Linked DNA regions of Homo sapiens: region 2 is linked to region 1. Evidence: fine-mapped expression QTL. Tissue or cell type: whole blood. Region 1 holds a variant in brackets; the other region holds the start of a gene. All regions are shown on one strand. Distances are between the middles of the regions.

Region 1 (10,369 bases):
CAGGCGTGAGCCACCATGCCTGGTTTTTTTTTTTGTTTTTTTTTTTTGAGATGGAGTCCTAGTATGTCACCCAGGCTGGAGTGCAGTGTGCAGTGGTGCAATCTGGGCTCACTGCAACCTCCACCTCCCGAGTTCAAGCGATTCTCCTGCCTCAGCCTCCCAAGTAGCTGGGATTACAGGTGCGCACCACCACGCCTGGCTAATTTTTTTGTATTTTTAGTAGAGACAGGGTTTCACCATGTTGGCCAGGCTGGTCTCGAACTCCTGACTCAGGTGATCCGCCAGCCTCGGCCTCCCAAAGTGCTGGGGTTACAGGCGTGAACCGCCGCGCCCGGCCGCCACTTGGTTTTTTTTTTGTTTTTTGTTTTTTATTTTCAGTTTTCTTTACTTAGCAATATATCTTGGGCAAATTTCCAACATCATTAAAATCATGGTAGGAAATAATTTCTGCTTAAACCAAGATGATAACAGATTATCATCAGAGACAGATTTAGAAACTTTAAACAAAGCTGTTTAGTTTCAGTTTCTCCTTGTCTTAAGAGCAGAGCTTTTGCTCTTTTTAAAATAAACTCCCTGCCTTACCCTCCCGACTCCTCACCCCCAGACTCTAGACCAGGCCCTGTCCTGTTCACGTTCTTCCATTCTGAGCTCAGCGGGCCTCTGACAGGCACCCCTTTCTTTTATAAGCAGAGCCTCACTGTAGAAAATAAACAGTTTTCAGCCAGGCGCAGTGGCTTACGCCTGTAATCCCAGCACTTTGGGCACTTTGGAAGGCCGAGGTAGGTGGATAACCTGAGGTCAGGAGTTCAAGGCCAGCCTGGCCAACATGGTGAAACTCCGTCTCTACTAAAAATACAAAAATTAGCCAGGCATGGTGGTGGGCGCCTGTAGTCCTGGCTACTCGGGAGGCTGAGGCAGGAGAATTGCTTGAACCTGGGAGGCGGAGGTTGCAATGAGCCAAGATCACACCACTGCACTCCAGCCTGGGTGACAGAGCAAGACTTCATTTGAAAAAAAGAAAAGAAAGGGTTTTCTTCTTTGGTGTGTGTCAGCAGAACATGAAGTTCATCTTCTCCTCATTGAAGTTTTATGAATTATTATCAGCCGTACCTGGTAACACTGGTTTGGCAGAAAGAAAACTGGCCCGGGGTGGGGGGCAGAACTAGACTCGACTCTTCTAGCCTGGTTCTGCCTTTAACCAAGAGTCTCTTATCGGCCGGAGCCTGGTTTGTTTTCCTGTAAAATGGGGTGGGGGTGGAAGAAGCATCGACTTAGGGGAATCACCAAGGTGCCTTGAGTTTGTTCATTTTATAAGGGATATTCTGAAAGGTATTTTTGCACCCTTTCCTCAGTTACAGAGAACTTCTTTCCCTGGATACCTTTTGAACTTATGTGCACTTATTAATTAGTAGCATCAAGATGCTTTGTAACTGTGCATTGGTTCTTTCATCTGAGCATTTACCCGATGCTTTACCCAGTAGGTATAATTAACTTCATTTTATAGGTAGAGAAATGGAGACAGGGGACCGTCTGGGACAGATGTCACAGTCACCCTCAGAGACTGGACCACCCAGTGGCAGCATGACTGGCAGCTTTCGGAAACAAATGTTATGTTTGCAGCAGTCCATCAGTTATTTAAAATTAGCCAAAAACATAGACTCTCCTTCTACAACAGACTAGTCTCTTTATTTGCACTGTCTACAGCAAAGCAAGGACTTGCTTTAAGTCAGTGTGGGCTCAGGATGTCCTGTGTTTTGTTGCCACCCACTTTCAGATAATGCTGGAGGAACCTCCCCTCCCTTCATGTATTCATTCAAAACCCATGAGTTGCAGTGCGCACTGGCCTCTCCTGCAGGAATGCACACAGTAGGGGGACTAGACGTGTCTGCACGTTATTTCAGCCCAGGAGTGGGGCGTCAAGCGGAAGTTTGGATGAGGTGCTGCAAGCCCTGAGAGCCCTGGGTGTTGCAGCAGAGGGCAAGCTTGTCAGAGGCTGCTTCTCACAGAGGTGGCGTCTGGAGAGAACTGGAACTTCCCCAGCAAACATGGATAGGAAAGGAATTTGAGCAGAAAGAGAAGCACGTGCATTCACCATGGAGGAACAGGGCTGGGACTGGGCTGGCAGGGCCGGTGCACCTGCAGCAGGGACGAGGGCAGGGTGGTACGTGGGTCGGAGATGACCGAGGCCCCACCATGCCAGGGGACCCCTCAGATCCTGCTTACCAATCTGTGAGATGTTACCTAACTTTGGATTGAATTGGAATTTTCAGAAAGTTACCATAGTAAAGTGCAGTTATCATTTGACTGATTTGGACTCTCACACATGCATTTTTATGCTTTGAGCTGTTACCGTTGTTTAGTTTTGTGTTTTTTGTTTTTTTTTTTTTTTTTTTTTTGACAGGCCACAGTTGCTGGTTTGGAAGGATCCGGTGATATTGTGTCTGTTTCGTGCACAGAAAATGAAATATTTTTCTTGAAAGGAGATAGGAACATTATAAGAATTTCAAGCAGGCCTGAAGGATTAACATCAACAGGTTTGTATTTATTATAAAATGTACCATGTATATGATGGGAAGTACTATACTCTGTTGTTTGTAATTGCAGTTAATAATTGATCAAACTTACCATTGGGCCAGGCATGGTGGCTCACGCCTGTAATCCCAGCACTTTGGGAGGCTGAGGTGGGTGGATCGCTTAAGCTCAGGACTTTAAGACCAGCCTGGGCAACATGGTAAAACCCTGTCTCTACCAAAAATACAAAAAACTAGCCAGGCGTGGTGGCATGCGCCTGTGGTCTCAAGTACTCGGGAGGCTGAGGTGGGAGGATCGCTTGAGCCTGGGAGGCAGAGGTTGCTGTAAGCTAAGATTGCACCACTGCACTCCAGCCTGGATGACAGAGTGAGACCTCATCTCAAAAACAAAACCAAAAACTTACCATTATTTTGCTAAACTATTGCAACTTTATTTGAACTTGGAGGATTTGGAGGGTTTCCTCTGATTCTTTTTTTTTTTTTTTGAGATGGAGTTTCGCTCTTGTTGCCCAGGCTAGAGTGCAATGAGGCGATCTCAGCTCACCGCAACCTCTGCCTCCCAGGTTCAAGCTATTCTCCTGCCTCAGCCTCCTGAGTAGCTGGGATTACAGGCATGCGCCATTATGCCAGGCTAATTTTGTATTTTTAGTAGAGACAGGGTTTCTCCATGTTGGTCAGGCAGGTCTCAAACTCCCGACCTCAGGCGATCCGCCTGCCTCCGCCTCCCAAAGTGCTGGGATTAAAGGCGTGAGCCACTGTGCCCGGCCGCTCCTCTGATTGTTAAAATAGCATTTACAGTACATTTCTTGAAAGTCACCTACTTTAAGGCTTACATCAGATAGTCTCACATTTAGTGGAGTTGCTTTCATGGTTGTGGAAGATGGGGAGATTGAGAAAGGAGGAAGGAAAAATCAGAAACCACTTTACTGATCCCTGCTCTCCGTCTGAGACAGTATGTGGGATTAATGCTCCAAAAGACATAGATTTGCATAGAGTTTTAGAATATTTAAATCTGTCATCTGGGACATACCGTTTACCCTTAACTCAGTTCTTCCTTGTAGGATTTATTTTTCTCTGTGCTTTTGACATTTTTTGGTAATTCATACAAGCCCAAATTTTAATGAGCAAAGAATCCTAATATGTGTCCTCTTGCGGACATCCACATGCTTTATATATTTGGGTTCCTCGGGGAACTTGTTCCTCATGGTGGCAACAACAGCCATGTGGACCCCATCACCCTCCTCCTCACTACCATTACCTCTGATGTCAGAGAGGGCAAATTGGGGTGAATATTCCAAAACATAATTTGTATAAGAAGTGAATAAGCTCTGACTCTTGAGTTTATGAGCTGGGGGCCCCTCAGACAGTGTCATCAAAGGGTTAGAATGGCTTTCAGGAAGGGTGGTGACTTGGAGCCACCAGGCTAAGCTCTGGACCTCTGCTGCCCATAGAGCTTTCTGCAGTGATGAAGATGCTCCCATCTGCCCTGTCTGGTAGGCAGTCCCTGTCCATGTGTGGCTGCTGAGTACTTGCAATATAGCAAGTGCAGCTGAGAGATGAATTTTACATTTTGTTTAATTTTTATTTTATTTTATTTTATTTTTTGAGACAGAGTCTTGCTCTGTATCCCAGGCTAGAGTGCAGTGGTGCAGTCTCTGGTCACTGCAACCTCCACCTCCTGGGTTCAAACGATTCTCCTGCCTTAGCCTCCCGAATAGCTGGGATTACAGGTGTGCACCACCACACCAGGCTAATATTTTGTATTTTAGTAGAAAGGGGGTTTCACCATGCACCATGTTACCCAGGCTGGTCTCGAACTCCTGAGCTCAGGCAGTCCTCCCACCTTAGCCTCCCAAAGTGATGGGATTACAGGCATGAGCCACCGCGCCCAGCCTAAATTTTGTTCAATTTTGATCAATTTGAATTTCAATACTTACAAGTAGCTGGTGGCTGCCTATTGGACAGGGAGCTCTAGGCAAGATCTGCCATTAAGTTATGTAATCTTCAGCAAGTCGCTTCACAGCAGAGTCCTCCCCTCCAGTCTCCAGTGTACACTTCATTGCCTGCAGTCTGCCCCTAACACATGCCCTCAATAGAATGTGGGTGCTTCAAGGGCAGGAATTCCTGTGTCTTATGGACTGCCATGTCCCAGCAGCTAGCCCTGTGTCTGGCACACGGAGGATCCCCGATAAAGAGAGGATGGCGAATGGATCAAAGTGGGCTGTGGTCTTGTGTTGAGGGTACTGTAGCTGGAACTGCTCTGGCCTTGTGCCCTGTGGTGTCGTGTTGCAGAAAAGATGAGTCCACTGCAGTGGGAAGCTCACTGGCCCTTGGGCTTGGGGACAGGAGACAGGTACTCACATGCCTGTTCTCACTCTGCGGTCTACTGGCCTTGATGCTGTGTGGTAATGGACTTCTCTGTCTTGAGTTTGTTCTAATGGAAAATTACCTTTCCCTCTTCCAGGAAACTTAATTACAGGTACACATGTATTTTTCAAATGCCCTTTGAGTAATCTTAAAGTATATTCAAGGCAGAGTCTTAGTATGAAGTATAACTAAGCTGTTTTGTTATACACAGGCATCTCTCATTTGTAAATAATTTGTAAATTGAAGCGAGAAATGCTGTATTCTTAGTATTTTTTTACTTTTTTTTTTTTTTTTTTGAGACAGGTTTCACTCTGTCGTGCAGGCTGGAGTGCAGTGGCATGATCTCAGCTCACTGCAACCTCCACCTCCCAGGCTCAAATGATTCTCCCACCTCAGCCTCCCAAGTAGCTGGGACTATGGGCGTGCACCACCACACCCTGCTAAATTTTGAGACTCCGTCTCAAAAATAAATAAATAAATAAATATAAAAAGAAAGCTATGGCAAATTATTTTACTGATTTTAATATATGAGCTTCTTGAAGAACAAAAACTGTTTCTTAGAGTCTTTTGTATGATTCTTTTAGTTTTGGTGGATTTTTTTTTTTTTTTTTTTTGAGACGGAGTCTC[A/G]CTGTGTTGCCCAGGCTGGAGTGCAGTGGCGCAATCTCGGCTCACTGCAAGCTTTGCCTCCCAGGTTCACACCATTCTCCTGCCTCAGCCTCCCAAGTAGCTGGGACCCCCGGCGCCCGCCACCATGCCCGGCTAATTTTTTGTATTTTTAGTAGAGACGGGGTTTCACTGTGTTAGCCAGGATGGTCTTGATCTCCTGACCTTGTGATCCGCCCGCCTTGGCCTCCCAAAGTGCTGGGATTACAGGCGTGAGTCACCGTGCCCATCCTAGTTTTGCTGGTTTCTATGAATTTAGAATCATTCAGTTCTTTAGCTGGCTGGTGCCTCTGTGACAACTGGTATTTAGGGCTAGCAAACGTGGATAAGTGCACATCAGCTCTCTCTTGGATCACCAGTGGTAAAACCAGACTCTTCTTTCTTAGTGAGAGATGGTCTGGAGATGTCTGGATGCTCAGAGCGTGTCCACGTGCAGCAAGCGGAGAAGCTGCCAGGGGCCACAGTTTCTGAGACGAGGCTCAGAGGCTCTTCCATGGCCAGCTCCGTGGCCAGCGAGCCAAGGAGCAGGAGCAGCTCGCTCAACTCCACCGACAGCGGCTCCGGGCTCCTGCCCCCTGGGCTCCAGGCCACCCCTGAGCTGGGCAAGGGCAGCCAGCCCCTGTCACAGAGATTCAACGCCATCAGCTCAGAGGACTTTGACCAGGAGCTTGTCGTGAAGCCTATCAAAGTGAAAAGGAAGAAGAAGAAGAAGAAGACAGGTACCCTCTGTAGCTGGCACACACCCATCTGGGGTTACAGTCTTTCCAGATTCTCTGGGAGTGCTGCTGCTCACTGAGTGAGCAATGCTCCATACATCCAAAAGCAGAGAACACATACATTTCTTCCCCAAAGGAGTTTTACTGCAAAATACTTCACATTAACGGAAAATACACACACACACACACACACACACTGTAAGGTCTAAATGATGACAGAACACCTGTGTGTACTCACCACCCTGCTTAAAGGGTCTCAGTTTTGTACTTTTCAATATTTATTTATGTATTTATATTATTTATTTATTTTTTGCGACAGAGTTTCGCTCGTCGCCCAGGCTGGAGTGCAATGGCACGATCTCGGCTCACTGCAACCTCACCTCCTGAGTTCAAGCAATTCTCCTGCCTCAGCCTCCCGAGTATGCATGCCCAGCGAATTTTGTATTTTTAGTAGATACAGGGTTTCTCCATGTTGGTCAGGCTGGTCTTGAACTCCCAAACTCAGGTGATCTGCCCGCCTCGGCCTCCCAAAGTGCTGGGATTACAGCGTGAGCCACCGCGCCTGGCATAGTTTTTAGTATTTAAATTAAAATGTCGGGGCCGGGCGCAGTGGCTCATGCCTGTAATCCCAACACTTTGGGAGGCCGAGGCAGGCGGATCACGAGGTCAAGAGATTGAGACCATCCTGGCCAACATGGTGAAACCCCGTCTCTACTAAAAACACATAAATTAGCTGGGCTTGGTGGCATGTGCCTGTAATCTCAGTCACTCGGGAGGCTGAGGCAGGAGAATCACTTGAACCTGGGAGGCAGAGGATGCAGTGAGCCGAGGTCACGCCACTGCACTCCAGCCTCGCAACAGAGCAAGACTCCGTCTCAAAAAAAAAAAAAAAAAAAGTGTTGGTTTATCCATGTATACCATTGATTAAATCAGAGATTCTGTGAGCCTGGGTGGAAAGTTGTGGAAACCAGAAGATCTATGCTGGTAAATACTTGGGACATTTTATGTTTAGTGTTGAATATGCTACCAAATATGGGATTTAACATTGAATTTTTTTCTTTTTTTTTTTCAACTTTTATTTTAAATACAGGGGGTCCATGCGCAGGTTTGTTACATGGGTATACAGCACCCAGGTAGTGAGCACAGTATGCAGTAGGTGGCTTTTGACCCATGCCGCCTCCTCTCCCGCTCTGGAGGTCCACAGTGTCTGTCCTTCCCATGTTTATGTCCATGCGTGCTCAGTGTTTGGCTCCCACTTACAAGTCAGAACATGCTGTTGGTTTTCTGTTCCTGTTGCATTAATTTGCTTAGGATTACGGCCAGCGGTTCCATCCATGTTGCTGTAAAGGACAAGATTTCATTCTTTATTTTTATTTATTTATTTATTTATTTATTTATTTTTTAATTTATTGGAGACAGAGTTTCACTGTTGTCACCCAGGCTAGAGTGCAATGGTGCGATCTCGGCTCACTGCAACTTCCGCCTCCCAAGTTCAAGCAATTCTCCTGCCTCAGCCTCCCGAGTAGCTGGGATTACAGGTGCCCACTACCACGCCCAGCTAAGTTTTTGTATTTTTAGTAGAGGCAGGGGTTTACCATGTTGGACAGGCTGGTCTTGAACTCCTGACCTAAGGTGGCCCACCCGCCTCGGCCTCCCAAAGTGCTAGGATGGCTTATGAGCGTGAACCACCGTGCACAGCCCAGATTTCATTCTTTGTTATGGCTGTGTAACACTGAATTTTTCAAACCTTTTACTCCTTGGTTCCTGTTAATCCTCTCTAGCTAAGATGACTGCAACACTGAAGGAAATGTTATTAGATTTCTAAGCATTTTAATAATTATAAGGAATTGGTTTGTGACCCAGGTGAACATCTCAGTTTGTCCCCTGGTTTTTCTTAGCTGCCCTCAAACCCATGGATTTGTTCAGTACTTGCATGCATAGAAAGCATCTCTTTGTTGGGATTATTTGTACTTAAGAGGTTTATTCTTCATTCACCAAATATCCTTTATTTAAAATTTTTTTTCTTGAGCCAAAAATATGTGTGCAAGTTAGTCTCTTACTAATCATATAGAACCGTGCCTTATTTTGAATGTTCTTATTCTGAATTAGAAGGTGGAAGCAGGAGCACCTGTCACAGCTCCCTGGAATCGACACCCTGCTCCGAATTTCCTGGGGACAGTCCCCAGTCCTTGAACACAGACTTGCTGTCGATGACCTCAAGTGTCCTGGGCAGTAGCGTGGATCAGTTAAGTGCAGAGTCTCCAGACCAGGAAAGCAGCTTCAATGGTGAAGTGAACGGTGTCCCACAGGAAAATACTGACCCCGAAACGTTTAATGTCCTGGAGGTGTCAGGATCAATGCCTGATTCTCTGGCTGAGGAAGATGACATTAGAACTGAAATGCCACACTGTCACCATGCACATGGGCGGGAGCTGCTCAATGGAGCGAGGGAAGATGTGGGAGGCAGTGATGTCACGGGACTCGGAGATGAGCCGTGTCCTGCAGATGATGGACCAAATAGCACACAGTTACCCTTCCAAGAACAGGACAGCTCTCCTGGGGCGCATGATGGGGAAGACATCCAACCCATTGGCCCCCAAAGCACTTTTTGTGAAGTCCCCCTCCTGAACTCACTCACTGTGCCTTCCAGCCTCAGCTGGGCCCCAAGTGCTGAACAGTGGCTGCCTGGGACCAGAGCTGATGAAGGCAGCCCCGTGGAGCCCAGCCAAGAGCAGGACATCCTAACCAGCATGGAGGCCTCTGGCCACCTCAGCACAAATCTCTGGCATGCTGTCACTGATGATGACACAGGTCAGAAAGAAATACCCATTTCTGAACGTGTCTTGGGGAGTGTGGGAGGACAGCTGACTCCGGTCTCTGCCTTGGCAGCCAGCACTCACAAGCCCTGGCTTGAGCAGCCTCCACGGGATCAGACATTGACGTCCAGCGATGAGGAGGACATCTATGCCCACGGGCTTCCTTCTTCATCCTCAGAGACGAGTGTGACAGAGCTCGGACCTAGTTGCTCCCAGCAGGACCTGAGCCGGCTGGGTGCAGAGGACGCCGGGCTGCTCAAGCCAGATCAGGTATGTGGGTTCGGGTGGTGGGAAAAGTAGCTGAGGCTTCTTTCTTAAGGGTAATAATTGTCAAGACTGATTATTTTCCTTCTCATGGAAAGAAATTCTATTCCTACTGCAAAATCCGTAGGCCAACTCTGTTTTCAAGTCTGGGTTTCAGGGGATTTCCAGCACAGGGACTATGAATGGCTTGAACTACTTCTGACCTGTTCTACCCTGCTCAGTAACCTGCCTCCCCAACCAAGGTAGCGTCTTGCTGTTTCCTCTGACCCCACAAGTGCAGGCTGGTGTAGGCACTTACTGTTAGCCATCGTAGGGCAGGGCTGAATTGGCCTGGGGCCATCTCAGAAAACCAGTGGGCAGAGGACTGTCCACCTGTGGAGTAGAGAAAGCTCTGAGCAGTTTGGAGGCAGGGAGTCTCCTGTCCTTCTCCTCACACCCCTCCAAGGAACCATCTGCAAGAGCACGAGGCCATTTCCAGAACTGCTGTCTCCTCAACCTCCGAACAGTGGCTCCAAGGCTCCCCTGCGAGCTGTACAGGAACCAGTTTGGAGTAACCAGTCTTTGTAGGTCCACCCAGCACATGTAACTAGGAGATGACTTTTAACTGTCCTTGAGCATTTTATATTAAAAGTGATTTTTTTAAAAGTGCCTACTTCCCTTAGCAAGTAATTATTACTAGATATATTTGTTTCAAAACTGTGTCTTGCCCTGTCTCCTACTAACTGTCGATGTGAGGTATGAATTATGGCTGCGCACTTACAGCCACGTGTGCTTTCCACAGTCTACGCTGGCTTCTGTCAGTGCTAGCAGTGTGACGCTTTGTCAGTGCTCACCATGTGCAGGTATCCCACAAAGCACTTTAGAGGTTTAACTCTTTTACTTCTCTAAACACGAACTATAAAATAGGCACTCTTCTTGTCCCCATTTTACAGAGGAGAAAATGGAAGCACAGAACAGCTAGACAGCTTGCACAAGGTCACATAGCAAATGAAGGGCGGGCCCCAGGACCCCC
Region 2 (9,131 bases), 68 kb before region 1:
AATAGTGGCTCTACATTACACGCATGGCTTCCATGTTGAAAGACAGTGAGACATGGCTGGGCGCAGTGGCTCATGCCTGTAATACCGGCATTTAGGGAGGCCAAGGTGGGCAGATCACTTGAGGTCAGGAGTTTGAGACTAGCCTGGCCAACATGGTGAAACTCTGTCTCTACTAAACATACAAAAATTAGCCGGGCATGGTGGCAGGTATCTGTAATTCTAGCTACTCAGGAGGCTGAGACAGGAGAACCACTTGAACCTGACAGGCAGAAGTTAGAGTGAGCCAAGATCACGCCATTGCACTCCAGCCTGGGGGATAGAGTGAGACTCGTCTCCAAAAATAAAAAATAAAAAATAGAAAAAGAAAGTGAGATATAAAGGAAACAATAACATATGTTTTTTGTTTACGTAAAATCCAAAAATGGATGAAAAGAATTCATGGTAGTTTTTTCCATATCAGCTAGGTAATGTGCCAACATCATAGCAAAGTTTGAGGAAGGCACAGGTCATACATGAGCATGAAAACCCAATCATTATGCCTATGAACTACAAAAGAATCAAAGAATCTGTGGTTTTAAAAATCAGAATAGCCAGGCACGGTGGCTCACACAGCACTTTGGGAGGCTGAGGCAGGTGGATCACGTAAGGTCAGGAGTTCGAGACCAGCCTAACATGGTGAAAGCCCGTCTCTACTAAAAATACAAAAATTATCTGGGTGTGGTGACGGGCGCCTGTAATCCCAGCTACTCCGGAGGCTGAGGTAGGAGAATTGCTTGAACCCAGGCGGTAGAGGTTGCAGTGAGCTGAGATCGCGCCATCACACTCCAGCCTAGGCAACAGAGTGAGACTTCATCTCCAAAAAAATAAATAAATAAATAACTAAATATATATATATATATATATATATATGGAATATAATTTTGTATTTAAAATGTACAATACAATTTATACTTACACGTATCATCTTACCACTTGCTTTTTTTGCTTAATATTTTATTTTAAAATTTATTCACATTATTTCCCCAGTTATTAAGGGTGAAAAACTTAGAGCATGAAAAACCAATATGTACTTACAATAAACTGATTTTCAAGTTGGCAATATTATTTGCAGTGGTAAAACCTGCATCATTGAGGGTTTCCCACTTCAGGATTAAATTGTGCCAATCAGCCGCATTGTCCTTAATTTTTCTTGCACTGACAGATAAGACAGGTTTTCTGGGCGTTACAGTTCCAAGAGTCTTTGCTGATAGGGTATAAAAGAAACAAAATTATTATCATGGAATATACAATCATAGTTGGAGGGCAAATGTCCTTATAATTTTCAACAGTAAAACTATCTGAAATGCTGTATCAACTGGACAAATAAATGTGGAAACTACAAAGTCTGAATGAATGTGAAAGTTCCTGGAAGAAGACAATATAGAATATTTTTAACATTTTAAAATTCACCAGATAGAGCTGAATCCTCTTCCAGCTTAATGGCTCCACAAAGTTTTTACCTTAAGCCCTTTGTTTTCCAAAGATTGGAAATAAGGTAAAGTTGTGACTGTCTGCTAAAACTCTTCAATGGCTCACGTTCCCTTCCCTACAGGATAATCTAGCCCTGACTCCCGAGTACTTCCACTATCTAGTCTCAGGCACTCTGATACTTTAAATTTGCTCAGAGTAGCGTGGCCCATGAGTGCTAATCATTTCAAGACACTGAGACAACAGAGATGCAGAGTTGATCACGATGCTGCCACTGCCCTTCTTGGTAATCAGGAGGAAGTCCAAAATCCTTCCAGACCTAGCTACCCCTCCACATCATCACGTACATCAACCCACACCTTGGCCCCCCGTCAATATCCAGCGAAAATGAACTACTGGCAGCTCTTGAAAAGCTGAGGTGCCTGCAGGCCTTTACACGTGTTCTCTCTGCAGGAAAGCTCCTTCCTTCCTCAGGCTCACGATGCCCATCCTCCAAGATGCACCCGGATCCCACTGCCTGTAGGAAGCAACCCCCAGACCACCAAGAGCCAACTCAGGTTGTTTGTTCTCCCCGAACCCTCCTGTGCCCTCTTGCCTTCTCTACTTTGAACCCCACAAAGGCTTCTCACTGCCCACAGGATAAAGTCCTCTTGAGGAATCCAGGACACACAACAGCTGGATGGTTTGATGCCTCAAGTCAGAAGACCACACTGCCTGCGTCTGAACCCCAGCTCGCCAGCTGTGAGATCTTGGGCAACTTAATGTACCTTTCAGAGCCTCAACATTTTCATCTGTAAAATGGGAATAAAAATAGTATCTATTTCATAGGATTGCTGAGATTAGATAATATATGTGAAGCTGTGAGGCCTCGCACAAGGCAAAAACCCAGTATCTCACCTGTTAGCTCAAGGGCCTCTACTATCCAAGCTCTGCCCACCACTTCAGCTTCTACCCTTTCCCACTTGCCCTCTGTGCATCAGAGCTGGCTCTGTACAAGTTCTGACTTTGACCTGGAATATTTTTCCTATCTGTGTGTGTCCCCACTCCCCTGCCTCATACTTAGTATCCTCACTTTAAAATATCATCTTGATTTATCATTCATTCTTTACTTAAACAACAAATATTTGCTTACTGCCTACAATACGCCAGGCATGGGGGAATGAAGTGATTGAATGAGACGGACCAGGACCGTTTTCATGGAACTTACTTTCCAAAGGGGAGGCAGATAATAAACAAATGACCACGATCAGTTCAGATCATGATTAAGTGTGTGTGGAAAATAAAACAGGGTCTTGTGTTAGTGTGATCCCCTGAGAAGGTGTCGTTTAGGCTGAGATTTGAATGATGAAAAGCCAGAAATAGGGTAGGTCAGTAGTATGTGCCCTAATTATGATAATGAGGTTGGTGAGTTCAAAAAACAGAAAACAAAACAAAACAAACAAGCAAACAAAAAAACCAGTGTGCTGGAATGAAATAGACAGAAAAGGACTAGTGCGTGAGTAGGTGATCAGACAACTAGAACCTAATAGGCCAAGATAAGAAGTTGGACCGAGGGCAGTGGCTCACGCCTGTAATCCCAGCACTTCAGGAGGCCAAGGCGGGCGGATCACGAGGTCAGGAGATCGAGACCATCCTGGCTAACACAGTGAAACCTCATCTCTACTAAAAAAATACAAAAAATCAGCCGGGCGTGGTGGCGGGCGCCTGTAGTCCCAGCTACTCAGGAGGCTGAGGCAGGAGAATGGCGTGAACCCGGGAGGCGGAACTTGCAGTGAGCCCAGATCGCGCCACTGCACTCCAGCCTGGGTGACAGAGCGAGACTCCGTCTCAAAAACAAAACAAAACAAAACAAAACAAAACAAAATAAAAAAATGAAGTTTGGACTTCTAAGTATTAGCTTGGTGCAAAAGTAACAGATTTTGCCATTACTTTTAACAGCCAAAATTGCCATTACTTTTGCACCAACCTAATACAATGGGGAGTGAGCAATGAGCTCTGGATAGGGCAGTGAAATTATCTGATTTAGGTTTTTAGAAAGTCATTTCCACAGAGAAGTATTCCTGGATCCCCCAGGTTGGGTTACGACTCACCACTAGATATGTGGTACACCCTATAATTCTGCTATCATGATATTCACCAGTGGAGTGTATTTGCTTGTTTAATGTCTATATTCCCTGCTAAACTGGAAATTCGACTAGGGTAGGAACTATGTCTCGTTCTCTTTCAAACCTTCCACACATAGGAGGCTTTGCATAAAATGAGGTAAATGGAGGAATAGCTCTTACCACCTGTTCTATAATTGTCTAAGGGTTTTCCCCCCAACAGGAGATTCTGAGGGCAGGATCACATCTGATTCATGGTCAGCCTGACTCATACGGGGCACATATTTAGGAACCAAAAACATAACTGACTTCAAGAAACTCAAGGGCTGGTAAAGACAGACCAGTCATCAGCGTCACAGGACAGGGTAGGGTGAGGGCACAGTGGCTAAGTTACTTATCCCCTCTGAGCCTCGATTCCCCATCTGCAAAATGGGGTTGACATTACTTCATGGGACCACTGTGAGGTTCAAATGAGATGATCCACTTAAAGTGCTTGGAGCAGTACTCAGCAAACTGAGCACTAGGCGAAAGCCAGCTTTCATTACAAGCAGAATGTTCTGACTGAGGGCAGTTCAGAGAGGAGTTTCTGGACGAGATGAGCATGCAAGGCTTGGTACCCAGTGAACTCTGTTAGTACTAATTTATAGTGACAATAATTACAATTTGGATGTCGGATCTGCTGACACTCATTTGCGTATATCGTCCCGTTCATCTGTCACTGCACATGTGAAAAAACGGAGGCTCGGCAAAACTGTCTCCCGAGCAGCTCGCAGAGGCTGCGAGGGGCCTGCGGGCTAGGCTGGGGTAAGACAGAGGACCTCCATTTAACCTCATGTAATCCGGGGAGCTCCTGAGCTTCTGGTCCAACCTGCGGCCTAAGCAGTAACATTCACAGCCACCCCACCCCGGGAAAGGAACCGATCTCACGCACCTTCCATAAGGTCCACAGATATCCGTAGAAGGAGACGCGAAGCCCCGCCCACCCCACCGGAAACGCATTTGCGTCACGTCCGCCCCGCCCGCTGCCACTTGTGGCTCTGCCGCTCTAGCCCCCGGCGGAGCCAGCTGCTGCTCTTCGGTGCTGGCCCCGGTGCCGGCCCCGTTGCCCAGGGAACAGGCTCCCGGCAGCCCCCGCGGCCCGGAGTCCATCCCGCCTCCTCCGGCCCGGCGGGGCCGACGAGTCCGGAGGGGCTGCCGCGGGAGGTGAGTCCGGCGACGCCGCAAGCGGCCCCGACGCCCCCGACGCCCCCGACGCCTGGCCCCGAGCCCCTCCTCGGCCTCCCCCGGGCCACTCTTCCCTTGCCTCAGCCCCGCAGGGTCTCCATGCCCGTCCGCCCCGTCTCCCTCGCCCGCGGTCTCGCCCGCGCGGAGTGGCGGACACTAAATGCCACAACACACGGAGCGCCTGGCTCGCCGCCCGCAGAATCCGGCGGTCCGCAGCGGGGAACAGGGGCCGCCCGCCCCTCCTCAGGCCTCCGCTGCGCGTCCCGCGCCCTCGGCCCCCGGCCCCACCCTGCATCCCGGCTGCCGGTCTGGCCGCGGGCTCTGCTCCTTCGCCTTAAGATTGACGTCGTGTTCTGTCCCCCACTCGCAGCCCGCGTCCCTTACATCCGCCCACCGGCGCCTGGCCCCAGGCCTTGACACTCATCCAGTTGGTGTTCAGTGTTCGATGAGTGGATAAGTGAATGACTCCTTTCCCAATCCTATTTGAAGGCATGGGAGGCAGAATAGGTAGTAAGTGTTAAAGGATGGGGTGTCCTGGAGTCAGAGCCGGGCAGGTCCCAGCGGCCCCTTCCTAGCTCTGTGCTGGGGCAAGTGCCCTACCTCACTCCGCTCCAGTTTCATCACCAGTGGAATGGAGATGAGAATAGTTTCTACCTCTGGCTTGGTAAGAGGATTAAATGGGTCAGTGCATGTAAAGTTAAGCACGGTGCCTGCCGCTGTACATTTCAGTAAAGGGGAGCCCCTGCTGTCATCTGTGCTAGCCTGCGTTCTCGCCCTCTAGTCCCTTCTGATATGTCTCTGACTTCTCATGACTTTAGTTTCTCCTTCTCTACCTCCATTTCTCTTCCCTGCACTTTTTTCTTCCTCTCTTATTGGGATTCAGGAATTTTATTCTGTTCTGTGACTTATGTTCCATGTGTTGGCAGAATGTGGGATACCAGCCTGGGTGCATCCTTTTCTCATCTATTGGAGTGACCAGTTGCACTTGTGGACTGCCTCCTTGCAGCCAAGGTCTTGTAGACAGAGTTCTGGGAAATCTCAAAACGCAAATCCCAGGCATAGGTAGAATCTGGGAATGAAGCCACTGTAGCTCCTTGTGATCACCAGCGATTCCTGGTCTTTTAGGCTGCAGGACTTTGTGTTTTCTCACACCCAGCTATAATGTACCTTGATAAACCTCTGACCTTATTTTTGTTGTTGTTGTTGTTAACCTGACTTACGTCCCATATTGGTGGTTATTTGGCCATCGTGTGCCAGCACTGTGCCAGGCTGGCTCTAGGGATGCTGTGGTGAACCAGACAGACCCTTCCTGAGGTCACTGCCTCAGAAAGATCATGGTCTGGCCCATGAACTTTAAAAGGGAGAACTAAGTGCAGGTGTAGGGGACACACAAATTGAATTTTCAGGACTGCCTTGGAAAACCAGTGGTGGGGAAGATGGAATGAGGATAACCCTCTTCTGAAGGAGTGACTAGGAAGTAGCTTTTGTTAGGCATCAGCTATATTATACCCACGTGTCTTTTTCAATAGAAGACTGGCATCTACTGGATTTTTTTTTCCAATTTTTTCTTAAAGAAGTTACACTTAAGTTTGGGGAGAATTTCATTTCATATTAGCCGCTGTAGGAGTTGAAAAAAATGGCTACTGGAACTTAGTGGGAAGAAAAGGAAGGAAACAGGCATCAGGCAGAGGCAGTTGATTGAACTTGGGAAGATGAGGAATAGATCAGGAAAGGGTTATAATGAAAAGCTTTGGTGTCAAGCACGAAGAGATTTCTAGATTCAGTAATGCACAGAGAGATCAGTAAAATTAGAAGGGAGTAGTTGATGGCTTTGCGAATTGCTAAGGTAGAAGGGAGCTGTTACTCAAGATGCATGTTCAATTTAAAATGAATGTATTCTTTGGACCTGGACATAAGAGTTCTATTGACTTTTTGCCACTATTTTATATTTAGGGCTGTCATACTTGGGTGAATCTAGCACAGTGCTTTGAGAGAGAGATTCATTCAACAAACGTGTATTGAGCATTGATTGTACCATACTCTTTATTGGTCTTTTAAAGCACCACAAAGTATACAGACTAGAAGAACATAGGTGAAGATGAGAAAGAGTCCATTGAAGGGGAGAGAAAACAGATAATGATGGTGCTGTGCGATAACTGCCATCATGGAGTTCTGTGAAAGCAGAGAAAGACCAACCAAGTATCTGAGGGAATTTATGAAGGCTTCCTGGTGGCGGAGGACTAGTTCTTACAGGGCACATGTGGGGGAATAGGGAAGAGTGGAAAGGGACTTTGTTCTGCAGAGACATACAGGTTATGGTGTGTGCAGGGACTGTGATGGAAAGCTGATGGATGCACAAACAAAACGTGGCCTGTCTACACAATGGAAGGCTGTTCAGCAATAAAAAGGAACGAAGTACTGATTTGTGCTACAACATGGAGGAACCTTGAGAACATTAGGCTAAGTGAAAGCAACCAGACACAAAATACCACATATTATATGATTCAATTTTGATGAAATCTCCAGAATAGGCGAACTGTAGACAGAGAGGAGATCAGTGGTTGCCCAGGGCTGAGAGAAGAAGCGTGTAGAGGGGTGATTGCTAAAGGGTAGGGAGTGCACAGTGTGTGGATGGAAGAGTGGCCTGAGATGAAGTTAGATATAGACTGTTTTGTCATAGTGTCTAATTTCCATGCTTGTGTTAGGCTTTAGCTTGTGACCATTGGGTAGCCAATGGGGATGGGAGCAAGGAAGTGACAAAATTTTGTCTGGAAGATAAATGACTGCCTCAGTCTCATTACGTTCCTCCTTAATAATTTAATACTCAAATAATTAATAGATGTCGTAGCCAGATTTCAAACATAGATTCTACAATAGGGATACAAATTGTTGCTTCCTAGGGATTTTGGAGAGAATCCTGAAACCATTAGTGTACCCAGAGCACTCTGATAACATGGTTATTGTACAGCGAAGTGGATGACTTAGACTCTATATTAGTCCTAGCTCCAGTTTGAGAAATCATCCATCTGGGTGGCAGTTGGGTGTTAGTAGTCAGCAGTGAAGGCTAGCTGCCACCTTCCAGGGTTATGAGATTGACAGGGCTAGTGGGGAAAGGAAGCATCGTAACTTGAAGGATGCCATAGGGTGGTGTTTTGTATTTTTTTAACTGAAATAGTCATGACTAAGGAAGCATTATTCATTATATTTTTATTTATTTATTTATTTTTGAGATGAAATATCACTCTGTCACCCAGGCTGGAGTGCAGTGGCACGATCTTGGTTCACTGCAGCCTCCACCTCCCAGGTTCAAGTGATTCTCCTGCCTCAGCCTCCCAAGTAGCTGGGATTACAGGTGTGCGCCACCACACCTGGCTAATTTTTGTATTTTTTAGTAGAGATGGGTTTCGCCATGTTGGCCAGACTGGTCTCGAACTCCTGGCCTCAAGCAATCCTCCCACCTCGGCCTCCCAAAGTGCTGGGATTACAGGCGTGAGCCATCATGCCCAGCCCAATTTTAAAAATTGGATTGAGACTATTGTTTTGCAGTAAGACCTGAAGTTAACAAATCTTTACTGAGCATCTACTCTGTGCCAAAGCTATTATTAGATACTAGGATTTACCTTGGTAAGCAAGAGAGAATTCATGTTGCTTACATTCTTGTAGGAGAGATGATTTTTAAATGGTTTAGCAAATAAAGCAATTAGAGGTTGTAATGAGGATTATGAAGCACATATGATAGAGGAAAGAAGGGACAGTTGGGTACTCTTGAGTGATCTGGTCAGAGAAGGCCTTTCTGTGGTGGTGATATTTAAGCTGAGACCCCACAGTTGAGAAGAAGCCAGATAAATGGAGTGAGATCATTTATTCTGCATAGAGGAAATAATTATGACACCTGAGTGGGACAGAGTGGGTCAGTGGAGCTAGAACTTGGAGGACAAGTGGAGACGGGTAGAGAGGTGACAGGGGAGCTGCAAAGGGCTTAGACCACACGGGGCATTTGGTTTTTATTCTTAGAGCACTGGGCAACCAGTGAGGAGTTTTGAGTAGAATGGGTAGTATGGTCTGATTTCTCTTTGAAGGAGCTGATATTTTCCTTTGTTTTTTGGGGGGTAACAGCTTTATTGAGATATAATTTACATGCCACACAGTTCACCCATTTATATACAATTCAATGGTTTTTACTGTATTCACAGCTATGCAACCGTCACTACGTCAATTTTAGAACTTTCTCATCACCCTAAAAGGAAACTCCGTACCCTTCAGCAATACACCCTAACCCCTTCTTCTCCCAGCCCTGGGCAACCACTGACCTACTCTGCCTACAGCTTGCCTATTCTA

Evidence for each region. PIP is the estimated chance that this variant, and not a neighbour inherited with it, causes the effect.
Region 2: TECPR2 starts here. The variant in region 1 is fine-mapped to the expression of TECPR2 in whole blood (TOPMed, PIP above 0.99).

Annotation. Positions count from the first base shown.
Region 1 is chr14:102,425,849-102,436,217 of GRCh38, forward strand. TECPR2 (tectonin beta-propeller repeat containing 2) reads left to right here. Exons shown (of 20, transcript NM_014844.5): 7 at 2,402-2,534; 8 at 5,948-6,280; 9 at 8,387-9,363. Among named protein-coding and RNA genes, the nearest start is that of TECPR2, 68 kb to the left of the region's middle. The variant A/G (reference allele first, on the strand shown) is at 5,526.
Region 2 is chr14:102,358,345-102,367,475 of GRCh38, forward strand. It overlaps TECPR2 (tectonin beta-propeller repeat containing 2), which reads left to right and starts at 4,597. Exons shown (of 20, transcript NM_014844.5): 1 at 4,597-4,772. It overlaps CINP (cyclin dependent kinase 2 interacting protein), which reads right to left and starts at 4,546. Exons shown (of 5, transcript NM_032630.3): 1 at 4,501-4,546; 2 at 1,075-1,243. The coding sequence starts at 4,507. It overlaps LOC124903427 (small nucleolar RNA U13), which reads right to left and starts at 558; the gene lies at 455-558. RefSeq lists silencers at 4,591-5,000, 5,041-5,130.